Linked DNA regions of Homo sapiens. The protein of the gene in region 3 interacts with the protein of the main gene of each other region in a pairwise test. Each region holds a gene or a part of one and is shown on either strand. Other genes may lie near its edges. The genes, in order: EPS15L1, INPPL1, ITSN1 and DLGAP1.

Evidence for each region.
Region 1: the proteins of ITSN1 (region 3) and EPS15L1 interact in binary tests that used the Homo sapiens proteins (3 or more experiments, as listed by UniProt).
Region 2: the proteins of ITSN1 (region 3) and INPPL1 interact in binary tests that used the Homo sapiens proteins (3 or more experiments, as listed by UniProt).
Region 4: the proteins of ITSN1 (region 3) and DLGAP1 interact in a two-hybrid assay, tested with the Homo sapiens proteins (2 studies listed by BioGRID and IntAct).

Annotation. Positions count from the first base shown.
Region 1 is NC_000019.10:16,468,957-16,476,536, reverse strand, and holds the start of EPS15L1 (epidermal growth factor receptor substrate 15-like 1), read left to right. Parts: upstream 1-4,566; 5' UTR 4,567-4,591; coding exon 4,592-4,624; intron 4,625-7,580.
Region 2 is NC_000011.10:72,227,741-72,234,775, forward strand, and holds part of INPPL1 (phosphatidylinositol 3,4,5-trisphosphate 5-phosphatase 2), read left to right. Parts: intron 1-449; coding exon 450-513; intron 514-607; coding exon 608-758; intron 759-986; coding exon 987-1,107; intron 1,108-1,267; coding exon of another isoform or gene 1,268-1,349; coding exon 1,350-1,490; intron 1,491-1,724; coding exon 1,725-1,818; intron 1,819-1,922; coding exon 1,923-2,012; intron 2,013-2,183; coding exon 2,184-2,279; intron 2,280-2,380; coding exon 2,381-2,531; intron 2,532-2,621; coding exon 2,622-2,728; intron 2,729-3,055; coding exon 3,056-3,158; intron 3,159-3,252; coding exon 3,253-3,449; intron 3,450-3,757; coding exon 3,758-3,875; intron 3,876-4,499; coding exon 4,500-4,596; intron 4,597-4,885; coding exon 4,886-5,024; intron 5,025-5,134; coding exon 5,135-5,234; intron 5,235-5,334; coding exon 5,335-5,423; intron 5,424-5,700; coding exon 5,701-5,782; intron 5,783-5,914; coding exon 5,915-6,004; intron 6,005-6,540; coding exon 6,541-6,654; intron 6,655-6,786; and 2 more. UniProt on the Homo sapiens protein: Phosphatidylinositol (PtdIns) phosphatase that specifically hydrolyzes the 5-phosphate of phosphatidylinositol-3,4,5-trisphosphate (PtdIns(3,4,5)P3) to produce PtdIns(3,4)P2, thereby negatively regulating the PI3K (phosphoinositide 3-kinase) pathways.
Region 3 is NC_000021.9:33,897,500-33,900,395, forward strand, and holds the end of ITSN1 (intersectin-1), read left to right. Parts: 3' UTR 1-2,362; downstream 2,363-2,896. UniProt on the Homo sapiens protein: Adapter protein that provides a link between the endocytic membrane traffic and the actin assembly machinery. Acts as a guanine nucleotide exchange factor (GEF) for CDC42, and thereby stimulates actin nucleation mediated by WASL and the ARP2/3 complex.
Region 4 is NC_000018.10:3,878,302-3,885,336, reverse strand, and holds part of DLGAP1 (disks large-associated protein 1), read left to right. Parts: intron 1-5,196; 5' UTR 5,197-5,268; coding exon 5,269-6,225; intron 6,226-6,929; exon of another isoform or gene 6,930-7,005; intron 7,006-7,035. UniProt on the Homo sapiens protein: Part of the postsynaptic scaffold in neuronal cells.

The DNA.
Region 1 (7,580 bases), on a different chromosome or scaffold from region 3:
AGGTTGCAGTAAAGAAGCCGGCTAAAACCCACCAAAACCAAGATAGTGATGGGAGTGACCTCTGGTGGTCCTCACTGCTACACTCCCACCAGCGCCATGGCAGTTTACAAAGGTCATGGCAACATCAGGAAGTTACTGTATATGGCAGCCTGAAAAGGGGGCCGGGCGCGGTGGCTCACGCCTGTAATCCCAGCACTTTGGAAGGCTGAGATGGGTGGATCACGAGGTCAGGAGATCGAGACCATCCTGGCTAACACAGTGAAACCCTGTCTCTACTAAAAATACAAAAAAATTAGCCGGGCGTGGTGGTGGGTGCCTGTAGTCTCAACTACTCGGGAGGCTGAGGCAGGAGAATGGCGTGAACCCGGGAGGCGGAGCTTGCAGTGAGCCGAGATCGCGCCACTGCACTCCAGCCTGGGTGACAGAGCGAGACTCCGTCTCAAAAAATAAATAAATAAATACATAAATAAGTAAAAAGGGAAGGCATGAATAATCCACCCCTTGTCTAGCATATCATCAAGAAATAACCATAAAAATGAGCAACCTGGCCAGGCACAGTGGCTCAAGCCTGTAATTCCAGCACTTTGAGAGGCCGAGGCAGGCGGATCACTTGAGGTTGGGAGTTCAAGACCAGCCTAACCAACATGGAGAAACCCCACATCTACTAAAAATACAAAATTAGCTGGGCGTGGTGGTGCATGTCTCTAATCCCAGCTATTCAGGAGGCTGAGGCAGGAGAACCACTTGAACCCAGGAGGTGGAGGTTGTGGTGAGCTGAGATCCCGTCATTGCACTCCAGCCCTGGCAACAACAGTGAAACTTCTCCCAAAAAAAAAAAGCAACCAGCAGCCCTTGGGGCTGCTCTATGAAGTAGCCATTCCTTTATTCCTTTACTTTCCTAATAAACTTGCTTTCACTTTACTGTATGGACTCGCACTAATTCTTTCTTGGGTGAGATCCAAGAACCCTCTCGGGGTCTGGATCAAGACCCCTTTGCGGTAACAGTACAAAGGGTCTGATTGTGAGAAGTGGCAGGGATCACTGGAACTCCACTTCAGATCCCATCTGGATCATCAAAACATCAACCCTAAATAAATAAATTCAGGAAATATGGTTAAATATAGAGTTTAGTTTAGCACAAAAGTTTGAGGACGGCCACCCTGGAACACAGATTCCAAAGAATGGAAATCAGCATTCCAAACTGAGGAAGTTTGGGGGTCATTTATATAGGTAAGGTTTGGGAAGCTTGACAGCGTTTCTACATATTTCACACAAGGCAAGTACATAGTTAACAGTAATCTGATTAGTCAAGGCAGTGGTCTTTTTGGGAAGGGTATATTTAACATTCACATAGAGGACATAACAGTCACAGGACCTTTTGCACTATCTGGTCTGATTTAGGTGCAAGATAATAGAGGAAAGGTCAGCAATGAAGAAGGGCGATCTTAACGCTGATGCCATTTAGTCTTGAAATGAATCTACAGAGCAAGAACAGGAGAGTTAATCTATAATCTATAAGCAGAAGTTGTAGTTACATGCTGTCTGGCTCAGATCACACAGTCCCGTTTTCTTCAAGGCTCAACATAATTCTTAGGGTTCAAAAGTGTATGATTAAGTTTGGATTTTTTTTTTTTTTTTTGAGACGAAGTTTCTGTGTTGCCCAGGCTGGAGTGCAGTGGCGCGATCTCGGCTCACTGCAAGACCCGCCTCCTGAGTTCATGCCATTCTCCTGCCTCAGCCTCACAAGTAGCTGGGACTACAGGCACCCCCCACCATGCCCGGCTAAATTTTCGTATTTTTAGTAGAGATGGGGTTTCACCATGTTGGCCAGGATGGTCTCGATCTCCTGACCTCATGATCTGCCTGCCTCGGCCTTCCAAAGTGTTGGGATTTCAGGCGTGAGCCACCATGCCCGGCCTTTTTTTTTTTCTTTTTTTTCTTCTGAGACGGAGTTTTGCTCTTGTTGCCCAGGCTGGAGTGCAATGGTGCGATCTTGGCTCACTGCAACCTCCCCATCCCAGGTTCAAGCAATTCTCCTGCCTCAGCCTCCCGAGTAGCTGGGATTACAGGCACCCGCCACCACGCCTGGCTAATTCTTGTATTTTTAGTAGAGATGGGGTTTCACTGTGTTGGCCAGGCTGGTCTCGAATTCCTGACCTCGTGAACTGCCTGCCTCGGCCCTCCAAAGGGCTGGAATTACAGGTGTGGGCCACCGCGCCCAGCCAAGTTTGGATTATTTTTACAAGATGATGCTGGAGAGTTTCTATGGCCACCACCATTCTAGACTCTGATACTGGCACTTAAAGCCTGCATGCTACATTTCCTGGACGCCGTTGCCAATTGGCAACGTTCCTGTCATGCTTTATTAGAACAAAGTTGGGAGGCAGAAAGAGGGGAGAAACCATTTTTTCAGACTTCTGCCAGTGGCTTAGGTGGTGGTGACAACAACAACTGTGACTTTCGCAATCATGGTGGAGGCAACTGTGGCTAGCAAGGGTGAACACATCTGGGATCCTTCTGTAGGCACAGTGATTGTGGGTTATGGGTCCTCCTGTGCTTTATTTATTTATTTATTTTGAGACGGAGTTTCGCTCTTGTTGCCCAAACTGGAGTGCAGTGGCGTGATCTCAGCTCACTGCAACCTCCGCCTCCCAGGTTCAAGTGATTCTCCTGCCTCAGCCTCCCGAGTAGCTGGGATTACAGGTGCCCACCACCACAACCGGCTAATTTTTGTATTTTTAGTAGACACGGGATTTCATCATGTTGGCCAGGCTGGTCTCAAACTTCTGACCTCAGGTGATCCATCCACCTCGGCCTCCCAAAGTGCTGGGATTACAGGCGTGAGCCACTATGCCCAGCCACCTCCCCTGCTTTAATCTTTCAGCTCTAGAGAGGCTAGCAGCCTCATATAGTTATGAATCTTTAGGTAAACTTACCTTCCTCTTTTGTTCTTCCAGTACTTCCAACACTTTTATACTCAGTCCCCTGTAGTCGTTTATGTATTCATTTATTTTTATTTATTTATTTTTTAGACAGAGTCTCGCTCTGTCACCTAGGTTGGAGTGCAATGGTGAGTTCTCAGCTTATTGCAACCTTCCCCTCCCAGGTTCAAGCAATTCTCCTGCCTCAGCCTCCTGAGTAGCTGGGATTACAGGCACCTGCCACTGCACTGGGTTAATTTTTGTATTTTTAGTAAAGATGGGGTTTCTCCATGTTGGCCAGGCTGGTATCAATCTACCTGTCTCAACTGGATTGCTGGGATTACAAGTGTGAGCCACAGAGCCTGGCTCAATCCCCTGTATTCAATATCCTCTGTTTGAAGTACCTAGAAGGACTTCTCTTTTCCTTATGGAATACGTACTGATAAAGCACTCAAGACTGTTAAAAACCTTCATTACTCTATTGATGTAACAAAAGAAGCTGAGGCAAAGTTAATATAAGTAGAGAGTTTGGGCCAAGGTTGAGGACCGCAGTCCAGGAGACACAGATTCAAGTTGCCCTGAATGTATGCTTTGATTAGCAACAGTTACAAGTGGGTTCTTTTTGTTTTTGACTTTGTTTTGAGACAGAGTCTCACTCTGTCACCCAGGCTGGAGTGCAGTGGTGCAATCTTGGCTCACCGCAACCTCCACCTCCCGGGTTCAAGTGATTCTCTGGCCTCAGCCTCCTGAGTAGCTGGGACTACAGGCATGCACCACCACACCTGCTAATTTTTGTATTTTTTTTAGTAGAGATGGGGTTTCACCATATTGATGTTTCACCATACTGGCCAGGCTGGTCTCCAACTCCTGACCTCATGACCCTCCCACCTCGGCCTCCCAAAGTGCTGGGATTACAGGTGTAAGCCACTGTACCTGGCAACAAGTGGGTTCTTGTCTTATTTATTTATTTATTTTTGAGACAGAGTTTCGCTTCTGTTGCCCAGGCTGGATTGCAATGGTGTGATCTTGGCTCACTGAAACCTCTGCTTCCTGGGCTCAAGCAATTCTCCTGCCTCAGTCTCCTGAGTAGCTTGGATTTCAGGTGCCCGCCACCACAGCCAGGAGGACGCCTTGCGGGGCAGGGTGAGGGGGGCAGGGTGCGGGTCCCCCAAATTAGCGCGCACACACACACACACACACACACACACACACTGCGATCCTAGGAACAGGGCGCTTTGCGGGGCAGGGTGAGGGTCCCGACCCTCCGCGGGGTGGGCGACCGCCTCCCCAGGCGCACTGGCAGGGGGACGGCATCCCTAACAGAGAACCAGGCCTCGGCATGGGCTGGAGGGATGACACAGCATGGTCGACTCGGACAGCGGCCAGCGGCATGAGAGTCCGAACAACGTTGGAAGGAGGAGTAGGGGAACGGGCAAGAGAGCACGGAAGACGCAGATGCCTCAGGCCCAGCCCCTCCAGGCTGCGTGTGGGCGGCCCCGCCCCTGCCCCCGCCCCTCCCGGCCTGACTGCACATGCGTGGCCCTGTCTACGGCCCCGCCCTCTCCCGGGACAGGCGGCCTGCGCACCGCCCTCCCGTCGTCCCAGTGCGCACGCGTGGCTGCAGCCCCGCCCCCGTTCCCCCGGCGCTCGGAGCCCGAGTCCGCGGGAAGATGGCGGCGCCGCTCATCCCCCTCTCCCAGCAGGTACGGGCCGGGCGGGCCTGGGGGCGGCGCCGGGGTGCGGGGCGCGAGGCGAGCGGTGCGGCGAGGCTGAGGCGCTGGGAGACTCAGCCAGGCGGCGGCGGGGGCGGCGCGTGCTGAAGGGCTTGCGGCGGGCGGGTGGGCAGGCGGCCCTGAAGGTGACAGGCCGGGACCCGCGGCCTCCCGTGCCCGAGCGACCCTCGCGGGCACCGGCGAGGCGAGGAGGTGCGCAGCGCGTGTCCTCTCCGCCCAGGGCCCGGACCCTGCCGCCGCTGAAGCTCCCAGGCCGGGGACCCGCGGAGGCGCTGGGCTGCATCCCGGAGGGGTGGGCGAGGGGTGCGAGCGTTTCTGTCGGCGCGGCGGCCCAGCGAGTCTTTGTCTCCCTCCGGTCCCGGCGCCCGGGCGGGCAGGGTCCCGCCGGAGCCCGGACCCGTCAGCAGCAGTGCGATCTCAGACTGATCCCCTGCCTCCTTGGAAGCTGCTTCCGCCACCCCTGCACCGGGCGCAGATCGTACGTCTCCGGGCGCCTCTCTGTGTCCTCAAATTCGCCTGATGCGCTTATGAAGGGGCAGTATCGATAGCGCGACACAGACATGCGAAAAAGAGCCATGCGTAGGCAGCTCTGTTATTTGGGAGAGACTTTCATTCATTCATTTTCTATCCATCCCTCAAATGTGCGTTGGGTCAGGTGCTGGGAGCGCTGCATTCTTCCAGACAGACAAGGTCGCTGCTTTCCTGGAGGTGACACTCGTGGGAACTAGAAACTACCTGTGTTATGCTAATCACAGCTGCCTTTATTTGCTGAATACCTGTGTTGTGCAAAGCACCATATAAGCATTTTGCTAGAATGATCTAGCACAGCATGGTGATTAAGAGTGAGGACACAGGGTCAGATCATGTGTTCAAATCTTGGCTCCAGCCCCGATTTCTCTGTGCCTTTGGTTGAAGCTCTTAGCCATTCCACCCATCAGTTGCTTCCTTTGGAAAATGGAGATATAAAAATGTGTTGGGATTATGTGAAAATTAAGCACGTGAAAAAGCGCTTAGAACAGTGCCTAGCATATGAGAGGCACTCAGTGATCCTATAATTACTGTCATCATTTAATCTCTGCCAGATTTGGACGTTTGGGAGTAGAGACCGCAGCAATTAAGAATTCCAAACCCAAAGAGAGTTGATAGGCCGGTTGCATGCTTGCATGACTGGTTAGCTGATCCAAGGAGAGAGAAGTGCACAGCTAGCCAATTTGCAACACTGTCACTAAGTTAACAGTGCTAAAACCCGGTGATTATTAATTAGCAAGTTCTTGTTACTGACATGAAAGTGCTCTGTAAACTGTTAAGTGTCCTACCGATAATAGGTGTTAATAGCTAAGTGCTACAGTTTAGAGTATGTAGTCAGGGGGTGGGGGGCGGGGAAGGCGGGAGTCGGGGGAAAATCACCTAAGATCATTTCATGAGAAAGCACTAAGCACTCCCAGTTTGGGAGGCGTGGATCTTTCTAAAACTTCCTGTCCAATTTTTTTTTTTTTGAGATGGAGTATTGCTCTGTCACCCAGGGTGGAGTGCAGTGGCATGATCTCAGCTCACTGTAACCTCCGCCTCCCGAGTTCAAGTGATTCTCCTGCCTCAGCCTCCTGAGTAGCTGGGACTACAGGCACGTGCTACCACACCCGGCTAATTTTTGTATTTTTTTTTTAGTGGAGACGGGGTTTCACCATTTTGGCGAGGCTCGTGTCAAACTCCTGAACTCGAGTGATCCACCCGCCTTGGCCTCCCAAAGTGCTGGGATTACAGGCGTTAGCCACTGCGCCTGGCCAGGTCACTGACTTCTTAGCCTCTTCCTGTTCCTTTCCCTATACATTTGTTGAATGAAGGCGTGGCCTGGTTTTCTTCGTTTGGAAATGTCAGCACTTCTTTACACTTGCTCTCGAGTGAAAATCTACACCATGGGTTACTGTTGGCCCAGGTGTGAGGCATGGCCCTCCCAGGCCCTTACTGTCTAGCTCAGGAGATCACTTGGGTTCACAGATAACTCTGGGGGAACCAAGGGTATAATTCCAAAATTTTTGGTTGGGGGCAAAAGGGAAGCACCCTGCAGCAGGTGGCTGTGATCTGGTTGGATTTAGGTGACAGAGCACACTTGGCAAGCAGATGGCCAGGTGAAGGTGAGCAAAGTGGATAACCCAGCGGGCTAGCCTAGGGGAGGAGGGGTGTGTTTTCTCCACCCCCACTCCTGTCTGCACTTTTCCCATCAGCATCTTTTTCAGTCTGTTCTGTACTCCATGACATCATCTCAGAATCTCCTTCCTTATATACTCTTTTCTGACCCTGAATATCAACGTAAATTCGAAAGGTCTGCACCTCTGCCTCTTTAGGAGTGATTTTTTTTTCCCAACAGCATCTCAGTGATTTGTGTGTCTCCCTGTCCCCCTGCTCAGCTCTCTTCTGCTTTCCAAAAAGCCTTCCGTGGAAATGCATCCAGATCTCTTTCCTCCTTGTACTCCCCGAGGTTACCGGTGGCCCCTCCGTCCTTAACCCCGGTGCCCTGTGGCTGCAGCCGATCCTCCTCGAACTCCGCAACACTGGAGCCCGTCGGTCTTCACTCTTCATCCTCTCTCCTTTCAGTCTCTCCTTCTTGTCCCCTAATTTCAGCCTCCCTACCTGCATCTTATCTCTCTGTGCGCTCCCTCCCCTGGAGCTTCTGTGCAGAGGACTTCAAACCTGCCTTCTAGAGTCCAGAAGGTGTCTCTCTCCTGCACCTCTGCCAGCCTGCTGGACTCTGGAATGGGCCATTTCCTTGCCATGCCCCAAAGTGGTCTGGGCCATTCTACTTCCTACTTGCCCACTCCCTCCCACTTAATCCCACGCCACTGTGGAAGTCATCTTTTTGATTTTTGAGACAGGGTCTCGCTCTGTCCCCCAGGCTGGAGTGCAGTGGTAGGATCATAGCTCACTGCAA
Region 2 (7,035 bases), on a different chromosome or scaffold from region 3:
AGAGCCAGAGAGCAGCATAAACACAGGAGGCATACACACGTGTTAGCACGTTGCCCGTGTGTGCAAATGGGCTAACCAGGCTTCTGAAGACTCTTACTCTGGCGGGGAGCCCAGACTGGTACCACAGCCCAGAGGGGCTGTTTAGACAGCTGTGGAGGCCACAAAAGAGCTCCCTGTTGCTTCTCAGGCCCTGCCCTGTGGTGGGTGTGGAGTCTGTGTAGGTCTGGTGGGGAGACGGGGGTGTTCTGGTCATTCCTGCCCAATAGGCAACACCAGGAGGGTGGAAGTGGACCGGCCACATCATTAACCCTGTGCAGCCTGGGCAGGTGGTTTTAGGGAAACCAAGCTGAGGGGGTTGGGGTGCTGAGCTTGCTGGCAGGAGGAAGGGGTGCTTTGGGTCTTAGACCCCAGCCTGGGGGTGACAGATTCTGGCCCTGCCTTGGCATCAGGTATCAGAAGCATGTGCACACGTATCGCATTCTGCCTGATGGAGAAGATTTCTTGGCTGTGCAGGTAGGAGCTTGGGCCCCTGACCCCTGACCTTGATCCAGCCTAGGGCTTGGGGACCTGCTGGCTGACCCTTCCTCCCACCCTTGCTGGCCCACAGACCTCGCAGGGTGTGCCTGTGCGCCGCTTCCAGACCCTGGGTGAGCTCATCGGCCTGTACGCCCAGCCCAACCAGGGCCTTGTGTGCGCCCTGCTTCTTCCTGTAGAGGGTGAGCGAGAGCCGGACCCACCGGATGACCGGGATGCCTCAGGTACTTCCCAGTGTGCAGGTCCCCTCCCTGCCCCTGTCCCTTGGCTCTACCTGCCTCTTCCCATCCCCCCTTCTCAACCCCACCTCTCCTGTAACCCCCTTTCCCTTGGCCATGATGCCGGGGCCCTTTAACCCTCTTTCCATGGAAGTCACTTTACAGCTGCATCGTGCCTCCTACTCCACTGAGTGTGGGAGGCCCAAACGGCTGCCCACTGACCCCTGCCCACAGATGGGGAGGATGAGAAGCCCCCGCTGCCCCCGCGCTCTGGCTCCACCAGCATTTCTGCCCCCACTGGGCCCAGCAGTCCCCTGCCAGCTCCTGAGACTCCCACAGCTCCAGCTGCTGAGAGGTGAGACCCCCATCCCATCCACTGAACAGGAGACCCTTTCTCCTCTGAGAACTATTTCCCTACCAAAGGTGGGGAGGCCTTCTAAGACCCCACCAGGGACCCCCACCCCACCTCAGCCCAGAGGCAGATAACCTGATCCATCCCGCCCTGGTTGCCACAGGTACTATCTCCTCTAGGGATGGGGCAGAGGTGCTGGGACAGGTCAGCAGGACCTCCACTGACTTCTTAACCCCTCCCCAAAGTGCTCCCAATGGGCTGAGCACCGTCTCGCACGACTACCTGAAAGGCAGCTATGGGCTGGACCTGGAAGCTGTGAGGGGTGGAGCCAGCCACCTGCCCCACCTCACCCGTACCCTCGCTACCTCATGCCGGAGGCTGCACAGGTATCTGGGACATCCAGCCCCATGTATTACACCCTTACCTCTGACCTGTCCTCACCTGCTTCCCGGCTGCACAGGTGCCCTGATCTCTGATCCTGAACAGTGAACTAGCCATTGCCTCTTGACTTTCCTCACTGGTAGCCTTTATCCTTGTGGTGAGGTTGAGGCTACACCCAGCGCCCCCTTCCCTATACTTAGGTCGGGGTGGGAGTTCTTTTGATCTGATGTCTTCCCTAGTGAGGTGGACAAGGTCCTGTCAGGCCTGGAGATCCTGTCCAAGGTGTTTGACCAGCAGAGCTCGCCCATGGTGACCCGCCTTTTGCAGCAGCAGGTAGATTGTAGGGAGACCTCTGGGAGGTGCGTTCGTGTTCTGGAGCTGGGTGGGAGGCTCTGCTTAGGTGACTCATGTACAAGCCTGGTTCTTCCTCCCCCCAGAACCTGCCACAGACAGGGGAGCAGGAACTAGAGAGCCTGGTGCTGAAGCTGTCAGTGCTAAAGGACTTCCTGTCAGGCATCCAGAAGAAGGTGGCATGATCTCTGACCCTTGACCCCCGATTCACTGGCCACTGTCATTGGCCTAGCACTGATCTCAACCCTCAGTCTACAACTTAACATTGGCCCCAAGGTCAATTGTGTCCCTCCCTGCCCCAGCCTTCAGTGTGTCCCCTGACCCCGCCCTGCCCTTGTTCCCTCCAGGCCCTGAAGGCCCTACAGGACATGAGCTCCACAGCACCCCCAGCTCCGCAGCCATCCACACGTAAGGCCAAGACCATCCCCGTGCAGGCCTTTGAGGTACATGGCAGTGGGGCCTCACAGGGCCAAGGGTGGTTGGAGGTGACCAGGGTGCTGCCTACTCCAAGGTCTTGTCAGCAGCCTCCCCACCTGGCCTACAGGTGAAGCTAGATGTGACCCTGGGTGACCTGACCAAGATTGGGAAGTCACAGAAGTTCACGCTGAGCGTGGATGTGGAGGGTGGGCGGCTGGTGCTGCTGCGGAGACAGCGGGACTCCCAGGAGGACTGGACCACCTTCACGCACGACCGCAGTGAGCCAGGGCCAGACCTGGGAGGGGTGGGCAGGGCGGAGCCCCTGGCCTAGGGGCACAGGCCCATGTGACCGGTCCTCCATGCCCTAGTCCGCCAGCTCATTAAGTCCCAGCGTGTCCAGAACAAGCTGGGTGTTGTGTTTGAGAAGGAGAAGGACCGGACTCAGCGCAAGGACTTCATCTTTGTCAGTGCCCGGGTGAGCAGCAGGCTGGGCCAGGCCACTGGGGACTGCGGGGGTCCCCCACATGGGTGCTTCCCATTGGAGGGTAAGAAAGGGAACACATGATGTAGGCATGCCATCCCTCCTGGCAGGGGTAGGTCTGACAGGGTAGAGGGTGTTGAGAACGGGTGGCCTGAGGGTGGATAACATTTGCCAGCACTGTTATATGCTTGAGCAGTGGGTATGCAGTGGAGAACCAGACAGACCCTCTCCTCATGGACATGAGCCAACTGGCAGGGTATCCCTGTGGACGGGGGGCTTCCTGGATGCCTACCCGCCCCTGAGTGGCTGCTGTTCCCCCAGAAGCGGGAGGCCTTCTGCCAGCTGTTGCAGCTCATGAAGAACAAGCACTCCAAGCAGGACGAGCCCGACATGATCTCAGTCTTCATAGGCACCTGGAACATGGGTCAGGCCCGGGCTGGGGCTGGGGCGGGAGAGAGGGATGGCCCCAGAGCAGGTGCCTAACCCCTCCAGACCCACCTCACCCCCTTCACCTCCAGGAAGTGTACCACCTCCAAAAAACGTGACATCCTGGTTCACATCGAAGGGTCTGGGGAAGACCCTGGACGAGGTCACAGTGACCATACCCCATGACATCTATGTCTTTGGGACCCAGGAGAACTCAGTGGGCGACCGCGAGTGGCTGGACCTACTGCGCGGGGGCCTCAAGGAGCTTACGGATCTGGATTACCGCCCGGTGAGGGGGGGTCATCTTGTCCAGGACCCTGTCCTCACACACCACCTCCAAACTAGCCTACTTGACTTCATGGGCAACCCTGGGAGCACAGCTTCACTGGCTTTTTCTCTGGTCCCTGAGCATATCCTTTGGGAGATCTGACCTGAGTCCTTCATGCCACGAGAGGAACCATTTCTCTCCAGTCCGTCAGGAAGAGGGGTGGCAAGCCTTCCTACCCTGTGATGGACACAAAAGTCTATTTATAGTGCAGGGGGAAATGCAGGCAGTGGGTGCAGCAGGGCAGTGGTGACCATGCACTCTCTACCCAGATTGCCATGCAATCACTGTGGAATATCAAGGTGGCAGTGCTGGTCAAGCCAGAGCACGAGAACCGTATCAGCCATGTCAGTACGTCCAGTGTGAAGACTGGCATCGCCAACACCCTGGGTAAGTGGGGCTGGCAGGTGCCCAAGAGTGGCAGCGTCTCTCTGTCCATGGCTTCTGCTTCCTCTCAAGCCTAGGATTGCCCCATTTTTGGTGATCTTAGTTTCCCCATATATAGGGTACTTTGAACTTTGAAAAACATATTCATATTCTAAATCTCTCCCAGCACCACTGGGAAGGCAAGGCCAGGATAATTACCCCCTTTTCACAGATGATAAAACTCAAACCCAGAGTGGTTGAGTGACCTGCCCAAGGTCACACAGCAAGTAAGTGGTGGAGCCAGGCATTGTGCCCAGGTCTCCTGATTTTCGGTCTGGTGCTCTCCCAGGTAGATTCTGCGCAGAATCTGCAGGGCCTTTCAGCTTCACCCTTGGGGTCCCCTGTGATCTCCAGGGGCTCTGCTCACACATACAGACAGACTCAGGCCATCCACACAGACCATGTGTGCCCAATGAGGACCCCCCCCTCCCCCAGGGAAGGTGTGGGTGTGTGCAGGGGCCTGCCCATGTCACAGCGTCTGGTGGGCTCAGCGGGAGGATCCTCTCACTGCAGCTTTGAGAGGCAGAAGGGAGAGTTGGGAGCCCTCTGAGGATGACCCAGGCCTTCCTCTCTTGCTTGCCTTAACAGGGAACAAGGGGGCTGTGGGCGTCTCCTTCATGTTTAATGGCACCTCATTTGGCTTTGTGAATTGTCACCTCACCTCGGGAAATGAGAAGACGGCTCGGTGAGGGGGCGCCTTTCCCATGGTCTCTTTACACCCATCCCATTCACCTGAGGCCTGTTCCCGCTCCCATACCCTAGCCCATGACCCTCCCGCAGGCCTGTCTCCAGAGACCCCCTGCTCTCTTATCCCAATTCAAGACCCTTCTGTTCCTGACCCTAACCTTGTCCCCAGGGGCCCGGATCTTTACCCCATCCCTGACTCCTGAGACTTCTTCCCTTTATGCCTATCCCTGACTTCTGGCCCTGACCCTGGGGATCTACCCCTCCCCACCACGCACCCCTCACCCTAGGAGGAACCAAAACTACTTGGACATCCTGCGGCTGCTCTCGCTGGGCGACCGGCAGCTCAATGCCTTTGACATCTCTCTGCGTTTCACACACCTCTTCTGGTTTGGGGACCTCAACTACCGCCTGGACATGGATATCCAGGTGCGAGCAGGGCCCTGCCATGGCTGTAGGGAGGCTAAGGGCCACATGGGCTATCACCCCTGGCTCTGGCTCCGGAGGAATGTTTCTAGCCTTTGTGTCCTCCACCCCAGGAGATCCTGAACTACATCAGCAGGAAAGAGTTTGAGCCCCTCCTCAGGGTGGACCAGCTCAACCTGGAGCGGGAGAAGCACAAGGTCTTCCTTCGATTCAGTGAGTGTGGGCCTGGTAGGTGGTGATCTGAGGGCTAGGAGACTTGCAGTATCCCTGGGTGTCAGGGCCCTGAACCCCACCTGTCTCCTGCTTTCCTTAGGTGAGGAGGAGATCTCCTTCCCACCCACCTACCGCTATGAGCGGGGTTCCCGGGACACATATGCCTGGCACAAGCAGAAGCCAACTGGGGTGAGCCAAGAAAACGGCATGGGCCTTGGGGGACCGCAGGCCTGCGATGAATCAAGAATTTGGGTCAAGGGTATGGGCCTCTGCAGCTTCCACTCCAGCCTCCATGGCCCCTCTGAGGCCTTTGGGTGATCCTGGGTATTTTGAGGATCCAAGAAGGGAGGTGGGTGCTAGGGCCTCTAGTAATAGAAGTGTGGGGACTCATCAGCTCTGGAGTGGGGTCCATGCCAAGCAGCCTCCTAGCTGTCAGCTCTAACCATGCTGCCATCCCCTGCCCCAGGTCCGGACCAATGTGCCCTCATGGTGTGACCGGATTCTGTGGAAATCCTACCCTGAAACTCACATCATCTGCAATTCTTATGGTCAGAGCCTCCCGGACAGAGTGATGGGAGATCTGGGGTGGTCACCATCTGGACTCTGCCCTAACCTTGGGAGGTGGGAGCCGAGGGTGGGAATATTCCCCCTGAGTCCCCATTCCTATCCCCTCTCCCCAGGTTGCACTGATGACATCGTCACCAGCGACCATTCCCCCGTGTTTGGGACATTTGAGGTTGGAGTTACCTCCCAGTTCATCTCCAAGAAAGGTGACTGTTCCAGATATGCTTGTGGGTGTGGCATAATCTAGGTGGGCACAGGTGGTGGCCTCGGGATGTACATAGGTTTGACTATGTAAGTGTGTGTGTGGGTGTGTGTACCAGTGAGTGCAGGAGTGTTTCTCAAGGTGTGATGTGTCAGGGTGTCTGTGCGCCTGGGCCATCACAAGAGTTGTGTGCCCATGAGTGTGTGTGCATACGTGAGTGTACACCTATCTATGTGTCTGTGTCTGTCTAGGGCCACGTGTGTGTCCCTGAGTATGCCTGTAGGTGTGGGAATCCTGCAGGCATTCTGGTCCCCAGCACCCTCTTCAATGGGTTTTTTATCCTTGGGTTGTCTCTTTGCTCTGGTCCAGGGTCTGGCCTCTGGAGATTCCCTGTTGGTGGCTTGGGACTGGGGAGGCCCCTCCTGGCCCTGCCTCCTTGCTCTGGACCCCTGATTTCCTGTCCCAGGGCCCTGTTTCTCTGTCCCATTCCTCCTGTGATCCTCTCAGTCCTCCTGTTTGTTCTCCTCCCTTTCTCCTCAGGGCTCTCAAAGACTTCAGACCAGGCCTACATTGAGTTTGAGAGCATCGAGGCCATTGTGAAGACAGCCAGCCGCACCAAGTTCTTCATCGAGTTCTACTCTACCTGCCTGGAGGGTCAGAGGCGTGGCAGGGGCTGGGTGTGGGCCAAGGAGGATGGGAGGCAAGAGGGTGCAGTCAGCCCCCTACTTAGGGGGAAAGGAAGCTGAGAGGTGGTGCTCAGTTGGGTGTCTCCCACCCCCACCCCAGAATACAAGAAGAGCTTTGAGAATGATGCCCAGAGCAGTGACAACATCAACTTCCTCAAAGTGCAGTGGTCTTCACGCCAGCTGCCCACGGTGAGGCTGTGGGCAGGGCCCCTGCTTATGGGTGAGGGCACAGAGAGGGGTACATAAGAGTTTATTGGAGAGCCTGCCTGGGAGGGAGTGTGGGGCCAGCAGAGAGAGAGAGAGAGAGTGTGTGTGTGTGTGTGTGTGTGTGTGTGTGTATGGGCATGGG
Region 3 (2,896 bases):
TCCAGCTAAGAAAAAGGCGAACTCCCACTATATAAAGGGAAAAGGTTGTATTCATTTCATGTTCCTCATGAAATCTCTGCTGTATGTTTATGGAATGGCCATGACTAAATGTATATATGGTATGTAAGAGGCCATGCTGTTAAATGTTGCATAAACTAACACAGATTCTGTAGTCAAAAATATTTAACTTGTTATTGTAAAATGTGATTTGTCATTGAGAGATTATTTTTCTGTATGTATATGAGAGTATTTTAGGAATCTAATTTAAGTGCATAAAACTATAGAAAAAAATTTAAAACCTATTCCAAGAGTAGAAAATGCTTAATGAGATTACTTGGGTTCAACTCAACTAAATTTCTTATATTAAAAAAAAATTCCAAGTTGTATATGTTAGAAATCAAATGAGTCATTTTTTTTCCTGCAGGAAATATGATAAATTTCAGTGTAATGGATGGTGGCGTGATCAAATGAAAAGTATCCTGTAGCTATGACCTCGCATGGGACCTTGGTGTTGCATTAAAAATGGATTTTTGCAGATCACATATCTGAGAGGGTACTTGTGTCAGGAAGGATGAGAGGATAGGGAGCCTGTTTTTCATCAGATCCATGTGCCACGCAGGCTTCCTTGGGTTCTAGTGGATTTGTTAGGGATCTGGGGCTGACGCAGCTATCCCACTAGAGAGGCCACTCTCTGACTTCCAGGTCGCCCTTTCTACTTCTGTATCTGGATTGATTCAGTTTATCCCTAATTAGCGTTTGCGTTTTCCATGAAATTTCCTGATGCATCCTCACTGTCTTCAACTGTTGCATAGCCAGGTGGGTGGATGGATGGTTTAGGGTTTCTGAGTTAAGCCGTTTTGGGGCAGGCTTCTGGATGCCCATGTTTCCATGGAGACCCCAGGGGGAAGATGCCTTCCTCCCGTCTGCATTCCCAGAAAAGGATCAGAAGTCCAGGCTGCTTCTGGGGCACAGACTTTCTGTACTTGGCCACCAGAAGTGCCCCTTAGGCCACCTAAGGAGGATTCTGTGAAACTCAATGTCTAAACCCCTGAGAAAGGCATTCAGAAATGATTTCAGGAGGGGGCAACCCCAGGAGTCCAGCCTCCCCTGGCAGCCTGGAAATACTGCAGTAACAAAAAGAGCTGGTTTCTGGTGATCTGAATGCATTGTGTTTGGGGGTGACACCGCTGGTGGAAGGTTGAGGGCCTGTGGTCTGAAAAGACATCTGAAGAATGTGTTAGGTTTTCAACATTTCTTTGAACAGGCTGCGTGCATCTTAATGCTGTCAACCAGCAACTGGAGCCCCTTTTTTGAGAGGCCCGAACCAGTAAAGCTGCTGACTTCAGGAGTATGGGAAGCTGTGATTTCTGGAAGCTTCCTGGAATCTATTTAGGTGCATGAATAATCTGCAAATCACTTAGAGGCACTGTCCATGTGGTCCATAACTGGCTTTATTCCCAAAGATGGAGCTGTTCAGAGATTTCTTTGTTCAGGCGCAGCCTTGGAAGGCCACCTAAGGCCTGCCAGCAGAGGAGATGAGCTCTGGTCTACCAACCCCAAACAGGCCCTGACTCTCCTTCCTTAGAACGATGCCCTCTGGCTGGGGTGGCAAGAGGGCTGTGAGTGGAAACAAGTCAGCCAGTCAACTGTCCCTTGGGCCTTGGTTGTTTCAAAAAAGTCTGGGGACAAGAAAAGCTAGAACATGGGGCCCTCCCTTCCCAGGAGTGCTAGCGAACCCTCCCAGATAGCCTTTGCCTGTTTGGAAAAGAATGTAATCCATCAGAACGTGAGCTCCTTGTGCTTCCAGTGACAAGCGGGCCACAGTGCTGGTGGCATGTTGCTTCCCTCACAGCCCTGCCCAGGGGTAGGACCAGGCCCGCCCCTTGATGGATGTGCTGTTGATTGTAATATACTTCTGTTGCCAAATAATGGTACTGTTTAATTTTCCATAAAAGAGAGACTATATTGTCTGATATGTAATGTTAATGGAATTCTAAGAATTACTAGACACTATTATAAATTGTAGACTTACGTATTTGTCTAAAGGTTTGATGAAGCAGGGCCAAAACATTGTTTCTTCTTTTTTGTTTGAAAGAAGCTGAGGTTTGTTTTTGCTGTTTGAGTGTTCCTTTGGCAACTTATTATGTGTGAAATGTTAAATTTTACCGATTAAGATGATGGTAACTGAGACCTTTCTTTAAACCAGTAGCAACATCAGTACAAATTGCTCTTCCTGTGTATCTTGAACCTAAAAAGAACAATCTCTTCAAAAACAAAAACAAAAACAAAAAACAACTCTTTGGTCATTTTGACCTGTGTGGTTTAAATTCAAATAGTTCATGAATAAAAGGAGAAAAGCCAATCTGTTATAGTGGATTATTTTGGGTTCTTTCTGCTTCACTCTTTTCTGAGAGCACAGGAAGCTAACAGCCCTGCAAATGGTGTCTCTTCCTCTTCCCACAGATAAGATTGTAGCTGTGCAAGGAAAATTGTGCAGAAATAAACCTAGAAAACAAAACCAACCAACAACCCTTTCAGCTGTCCTGCGGCTTCAGATAAATGTTAGCTAACACCAAGCAGAAATAGATTTCTGTGTACGAAGTCTTTGTGAGAACAGGAGAAGTTTTGTGTTGTACAGCATAAGAAATTCTGAGGGTGGGGTTGAGAGGGCGGTGCAAAAAGCTGATTTTCTTATAAAGACATTCAGAAGGGTCGCTGAATTTCCAGGAAGAAGTTTCTAACACACGTAACTCCACGTGTTCAGCACTTGGGTGATCTATAATTCTGCGTTCCATAAAACCCAACGCTGAATTGTATTAGGTTGTTTCCTCCTGTTCTGGTTTTAAGGCCATTCCTACCTATTTCATCACTGATTTAACTGACTATAAATAAGTCC
Region 4 (7,035 bases), on a different chromosome or scaffold from region 3:
CTTTGCAGCAGCAGGCAAGGAAGCTTTCTAATGATGCTCTTGGTCACACCACAGGTGGCAGCAAGTGGTACCCATGGATACAACTTATAAACATTAATTAGGAGAGGGGGGAAAAAAGAAGTGACAGAGATAAATGTGCTGGAAAGGGAGTTTAAGAGTAAGGCAAGAGGAAAATGAAGAATGAGAGAAGGAAGAGCAGGACCTCCATAGTAGGTGCCACCAGCAATTGTCTACCCATTGCCAATGGCCTTAGGATTTTAGATCATTTGCCCTTGCTCACCAAGAAGTCACAGAATGTGTTTTCTTTTATAATCACAAATTGACCTATTTTCATTTTAAAATGACAAGACGATAGAAGAGAGTGTAAGATTTGTTACAGAAAGGGCCATGGTATTAAGTTGTTTATTTGGCCTTGACCAGAAAGATAGATTTAGCATTTAGAAATGTTTATTGCCATTTTTTATGACCTTCTTTTCCCACATCATAGAGAAAAAAGATCAAGATCTCAATATCTCTTTTACAAATACAAGTAAGGAAGGAGGAATGTTAGCTTATTTATTCTGGATGCAATTTGTTACCCTCCAAGAAAATAGAGGTGCTTGTCCTGTGCTGAAAATAGCCCAGTTAAATTTTAGTAAAAAACACACTGTGTATGATTAATTTACAGAAATTATCATTGGTTACATCATTTAACTTAAATCATCATTAGTGGCCTTAAACAGCTCTTCGTTTGCTCTGCTTGTCCTCAGGTAACGTCATCTTGCATGGAATGTTGCTCACATATTAAAGATAATTAAATACTGAATACCTGATTAAAATAATCTTGTATATTTTGGAGTAAACATGTATAATTCATGTTTTCAGCTCTTGCCAGTTTCACATTTTATTTAGCAGAAAATATCTACCCAAGATTCAAACTGCTTGAGAAGGAAAGTTCGAAACATTATTCCACATCATTTTATATATTGAGATTCTACTATATGTGATCATAAAAGTTAGTATGTGTCTATAATCCTAATAGAATCTTGTTTTTGCTTTTTATAAGTCTGTATTTGAAAGGCAAAAATGTCCTCAGTGGAACCTGATTTGTAGAGAGAGACTTTCTTATGCAATGGATTTTTGCATCTAAGTTAGTTTGTGCCACAGTTTTGCTAAAAACACATACTTAACCCTCTTACATTCTTCCTTGCCACAGCCTACTTTTAGGACCATAACTTCATACAAAGCAATCCCAAGGTTTTCTGTTTCATTAGTCTGTCACCAGTGGACACGTTTTTTACCTATCGGTTCTTCCTTATCCACAGGTATCATAAGTCCTGAATTCCTTTTTTGTCCCTTCAAGAGTCAGTTTCTCTCTCTCTTCCAGGCGGATTGCCCTCTGTCTAAGCATCCTGTAGTCAGCAGGTTAGGCAAACTCCCCAGACTTTACTTCCAGACAGGTAGAACGGCAGAAGGTACGATATTGCCCAGTGAGTTGCAGAGTTAGAAGTCAAAGGTATATAGGTCAGAAGGAGTGTTCACCAGTCTGCTTCCTGCCTTGCTCTGAAGACTGGTCTTTGGAATGGTCACCCTGATGGAATGGTCCCCCCAACTATTGGGCATCTTTCCTTGGCCTTGCCCAGCCTGGCCTTTGCCACACAGTCATGTTTTCATTAAACAGATGCTACTTGAATCACACTATGAACCACTTTGGGAAATTTTGCATTAATGCATTAAGTAATTGAGTAAATATTCTACTAACTTAATTCCCACTATCCACTAGGATAGCACTTTGCCAAATACTAGGTGGGTGAAACATAGTCCCTACCCTTAAGGACGTCACAATTTAGTAGACTAACAAATTTTGAGTGACTGTACTGATTAAAACCTTTCATCATTATTCCTGAATGGTCAATCCAGAAACTGGGAGACAGGAGGAAGAAAGGAGCTTCACAAAGCATGGATAGAGATTGCCAACATTGTCATGAGCGCTCCCAGATGCAGTATGTCTCATGGAATAGACAAGACCTGGCCTCTCAAAAATCTTTTTTCATGAGGTCCAGTGTGGGTGTTTTATATGTTTGTTTGTTTTTGTTTGTTTGTTTGTTTGTTTTGAGATGGAATCTTGCTCTGTCACCCAGGTTGGAGTGCAGTGGCACGATCTCGGCTTGCCGCAACCTCCGCCTCCTGGATTCAAGCAATTCTCCTGCCTCAGCCTCCCAAGTAGCTGATATTACAGGCTCCCGCCACCATGCCCAGCTAATTTTTGTATTTTTAGTAGAGACGAGGTTTCACCATGTTGGCTAGACTGGTCTTGAACTCCTGACTTCAGGTGATTCGCCTGCCTCGGCCCCCCAAAGTGCTAGGATTACAGGCGTGAGCCACCGCACCCAGCACTATATGTTTTGTTTCTTAATTAAACCACATATCTATCTCTCTAGGAATATCTGAAATGACATTAGTGATATTTTAGAGAGTCATGTTGGCTTTCCAAGATGACTCTTTATATGGCAATTTTTGTATTGTAGGAAGTCTTGAAAGAAAATCAGGCTGTCAGAAGGAACTTGGTCAGGCACTGACTCTAACACTGTTTTGGAGTCCAGAGAAAATACTCTGCCCTGATGGAATAGCAGCCTCTGTTAGTTACTAAAACTCCGGAAGATCCGAGCTTGGAAATGGACTGAGATACCCTACATGGGATATGAATGAGTGACTTTTCCCTGAGGCTGAGCTATTAGGTCTGGGGTCCTTCACTCATGTCCTCAAGAACTTTTCAAGGGCCATCCTTTGGTCATTTTGCCATCGGCTATTAACTTTTTTTTTTTTTTTTTGAGACAGGGTCTCATTCTGTCACCCAGGCTGAAGTATAGCGGTGCATTCACAACTCATTGCAACCTCAACCTCCTGGGCTCAAGCAATCCTCTCCCCACTTGAGTAGCTGGGACTACAGGCATGCACCACCACTCCCAGCTAATTTTTTTTTTTTTAAAGACTGGGTCCCACTATGTTTCCCAGCTTGTCTCAAACTCCTGGGTTCAAGCGATTCTCCAACCTTGGCCTCCCAAAGTGCTGGGATTACAGGCGTCAGCCACCACGCCTGGTCTTGTGCGTAAATACTCAACCAGAAACCTTAAACTAGGAAGAAGAGATATATGATCCTCAAATTAGCCTAGTCAAGCTTAACTTGTTCTCTGTTTGTTTAGAGAAAGCTCTTGACCCTCAATTGACAGAAATACCTGGGCAGATTTTCTCTACATTTATGATTTATTTGCCATATCTTTACTTTTTCCCACTCTGAGTAACCTGGGGGGATTGTTTGTGTGGTGAAGTTGTTCCTACAGAATTCAAAAAGGAAAACATGCAACAGAAGACAGAGATATCCTAAAGATACGAGGTGCCATTGGCTTCTATTATTCATCTTAGTGTTTGTTTGTTTGTTCTGAGACAGACGGAGTCTTGCTCTGTTGCCCAGGCTGGAGTGCAGTGGCACGATCTCGGCTCACTGCAAGCTCCGCCTCCCGGGTTTATGCCATTCTCCTGCCTCAGCCTCCCGAGTAGCTGGGACTACAGGCGCCTGCCACCATGCCTGGCTAATTTTTTGTATTTTTAGAAGAGACGGGGTTTCACCGTGTTAGCCAGGATGGTCTCGATCTCCTGACCTCGTGATCCACCTGCCTCGGCCTCCCAAAGTGCTGGGATTACAGGAGTGAGCCACCGCGCCCGGCTCATCTTGTTTTTTAACTCACATTTTCATTCACACTTATGGAGTGCTATTACTGTGTGCTTACATGGCTGGATCGACACTAGGTCGGGGTACATAATGAGACTAATAGACTGGGAGGCAAGGAACATAAGCCGGAAGAGAGATCCTGAAGCAAGCAACTCTGTAGGTTCTGGGGAGTGAGTTTCAGATGTGGTGGAAACACAAGAGAGGAACTAATTCTCTCTGCTAGGAGAGCCAGCAGAGGTTTCCTAGAGGAACTGAGCCCCTCTCCAGTTCTATCTTTAACAATTAACATGTAGAGACTAGCCTGACCAACATGGTGAAACCTCATAAATACAAAAATTAGCCAGCCATGGTGGCAGGCACCTGTAATCCCAGCTACTCTGAAGGCTGGGGCAGGGGAATCACTTGAACCCGGGAGAGAGAGGTTGCAGTGAGCCGAGATCGTGCCATTGCACTGCAGCCTGGGCAACAGAGCAAAAACTCCATCTCACAAAAAAAAGAAAAAGAAAAGAAAAAGAAAAAAAAGAATAAGACCCAAGAAGCAAGAGAACGATACATCCAGTTATTGGGGTCATAGAGGGAAGGAGAGTTATTGTTTCAAATAATTTAAAAACAATTTGGTTTTTTTTTAAATATAGTTTTCTTTTCCTAGTTTTCTTTTTCTTTTTTTTTTTTTTTTTTTTTTTCTGAGATGGAGTCTGGCTCTGTCCCCCAGGCTGGAGTGCAGTGGTGCCATCTCTGCTCACTGCAAGCTCCGCCTCCCAGGTTCAAGCAATTCTCCTGCCTCAGCCTCCCGAATAGCTGGGATTACAGGCACCCACCACCACGCCCAGCTAATTTTTGTATTTTTAGTAGAGACAGGGTTTCACCATGTTGGCCAGGCTGGTCTCAAACTCCTGACCTCAGGTGATCCGCCCTCCTTGGCCCCCCAAAGTGCTGGGATTACAGGCGTGAGCCACCGCGCCCGGCCTCCTTTTTCTAGTTTTCTAGCTTTACCTCCACCTTCTCTCCCTACAGGCTTTGGAGTCAGCTTTCCTGCCCCACAGAGGTGACAGAGCTCTTCCAATAATGCGTTCAAGCTGTTTTAGGGGACACTGATTAAGTTCTGCCAAAAAAACACGGTCGCAGATGGCACCCTCAAGAGATCAATACCAGGCCTGCAGGGTTGCTCACGCCTGTAATCCCAGCACTTAAGGGAGGCCAAAGTGGGAGGACAGCTTGAGCCCAGGAGTTCGAGACCAAGCCTGGGCAATATAGTGAGACCTCCTCTCTACAAAAAATTAGCCAAGCGTGGTGGGGCCTGCCTGTAGTCCTAGCTACTCGGGAGGCTGGTGTGGAAGGATGGCTTGAGCCCAGGATGTGGAGGCTGCAGGAAGCAGAGATGGCGCCTGTGCACTCTAGCCTGGGCAACAGAGCAAGACCCTGTAAAGTGCAATACCTAATTTCCAAGAGAAATGTTAACGACTTTGCCCTTTTCTTCATTCCCCCAGATCCCTGCCCAAGACGGGTCTGGAGCCTGACTTCCGGGTGTCCATGACCCTGGCGGCTGCTTCCGGTCCGCCATGAAAGGGCTATCAGGCAGCCGCAGCCATCACCACGGGGTCACCTGCGACTCGGCCTGTGACTCGCTGTCGCACCACTCCGACCGCAAGCCCTACCTGCTGAGCCCAGTGGAGCACCACCCCGCAGACCACCCATACTACACCCAGCGGAACTCCTTCCAGGCTGAGTGCGTGGGCCCCTTCAGCGACCCGCTGGCCAGCAGCACCTTCCCCCGCAGGCACTACACCTCGCAGCAAGAGCTGAAGGACGAGTGTGCCCTGGTGCCCCGCACCCTGGCCACCAAGGCGAACCGCATCCCCGCCAACCTGCTGGACCAGTTCGAGCGGCAGCTGCCACTCAGCCGCGATGGCTATCACACCCTGCAGTACAAGCGCACGGCCGTGGAGCACCGCAGCGACAGCCCCGGCCGCATCCGCCACCTGGTGCACTCGGTCCAGAAGCTCTTCACCAAGTCGCACTCCCTGGAGGGGCCGTCCAAGGGCAGCGTCAACGGGGGCAAGGCCAGCCCTGACGAGGCGCAGGCGGCGCGCTATGGCAAACGCAGCAAGAGCAAGGAGCGGCGCGCGGAGCCCAAGGCCCGGCCCAGCACCTCCCCGGGCTGGTGGAGCTCGGACGACAACCTGGATGGTGACATGTGCATCTACCACGCCCCCTCGGGCGTGATGACCATGGGCAGGTGCCCCGACCGCTCGGCCTCACAGTACTTCCTGGAGGCCTACAACACCATCAGCGAGCAGGCGGTGAAGGCCTCCCGGAGCAACAACGACGTCAAGTGCTCCACCTGCGCCAACCTGCCGGTCAGCCTGGACACCCCGCTGCTGAAGAAGAGCGCCTGGTCCTCCACGCTCACCGTGAGCCGGGCCCGGGAGGTTTACCAGAAGGCCTCGGTGAACATGGACCAGGCCATGGTGAAGTCCGAGTCGTGTCAGCAAGAACGCTCCTGCCAGTACCTGCAGGTACCATTTCTGTCAATGATGGAGGCTTAGAAGTAGTACCTGGCATGCTTGTGTGGGCATTTCTCCTGGTTCTAGTCTTGGCACTACTCTGAATTGTCTATTAAGATAGGAACCTGTGCAAATTATTCGGCATCTCTGTGCCGAATTGCTCCTGTAGGGAAAATGAAAAGAAACAAATGCTACCGACCTCACCGGGTTATCTTAAGACACTAGATATCCAAGTGCTTTGAAAAGCACGCCTATGGAAAGGCAACCAGTTATTATGGGCTTCCTCTTTTGTCTGAGGGATCATAGGATGGGAAAGAGAGGAAAGGGAAGTCTACAGAGAATTTTAAAAGAAGTCCACCTTTCTTTAATTCAAAAATACGTGACGATCGTTTGAATTTTGGAAAGAGTTTCATTAGATCTATTCAGGGTTTTGTGGGGTGGTTTTCATTGTGAAATCCTGCCTGAAGCTATGTTAGAATACTGCGATGGTCATCATCATAACCATCAGTAACTACACCCCGACCTGAGCTTCCACATCGAGGGCACAGCAAATCAGGAAGACGCCCTGTGCCCTGAGGAGGTGGGGAGCTAGCCAGTTTGGGGACCTGACAAGCACAGCTGCAGACACCCAGGACAACAGAGAGGAGGAGGAAAAGGAGGAAGGATTAGAGAAGTAAAATACAATTAGTGTCAGCATGTAAATCCCACACACTTACAGAGCCACGGTAGGCTGCTCTTCCCCTGCCACTGTCTCCTTGTGTTTTCCTCCAGTTCACTGAAACCAGATGTTACCTGGATAAAAATATAGGAGAGAGATGTTTT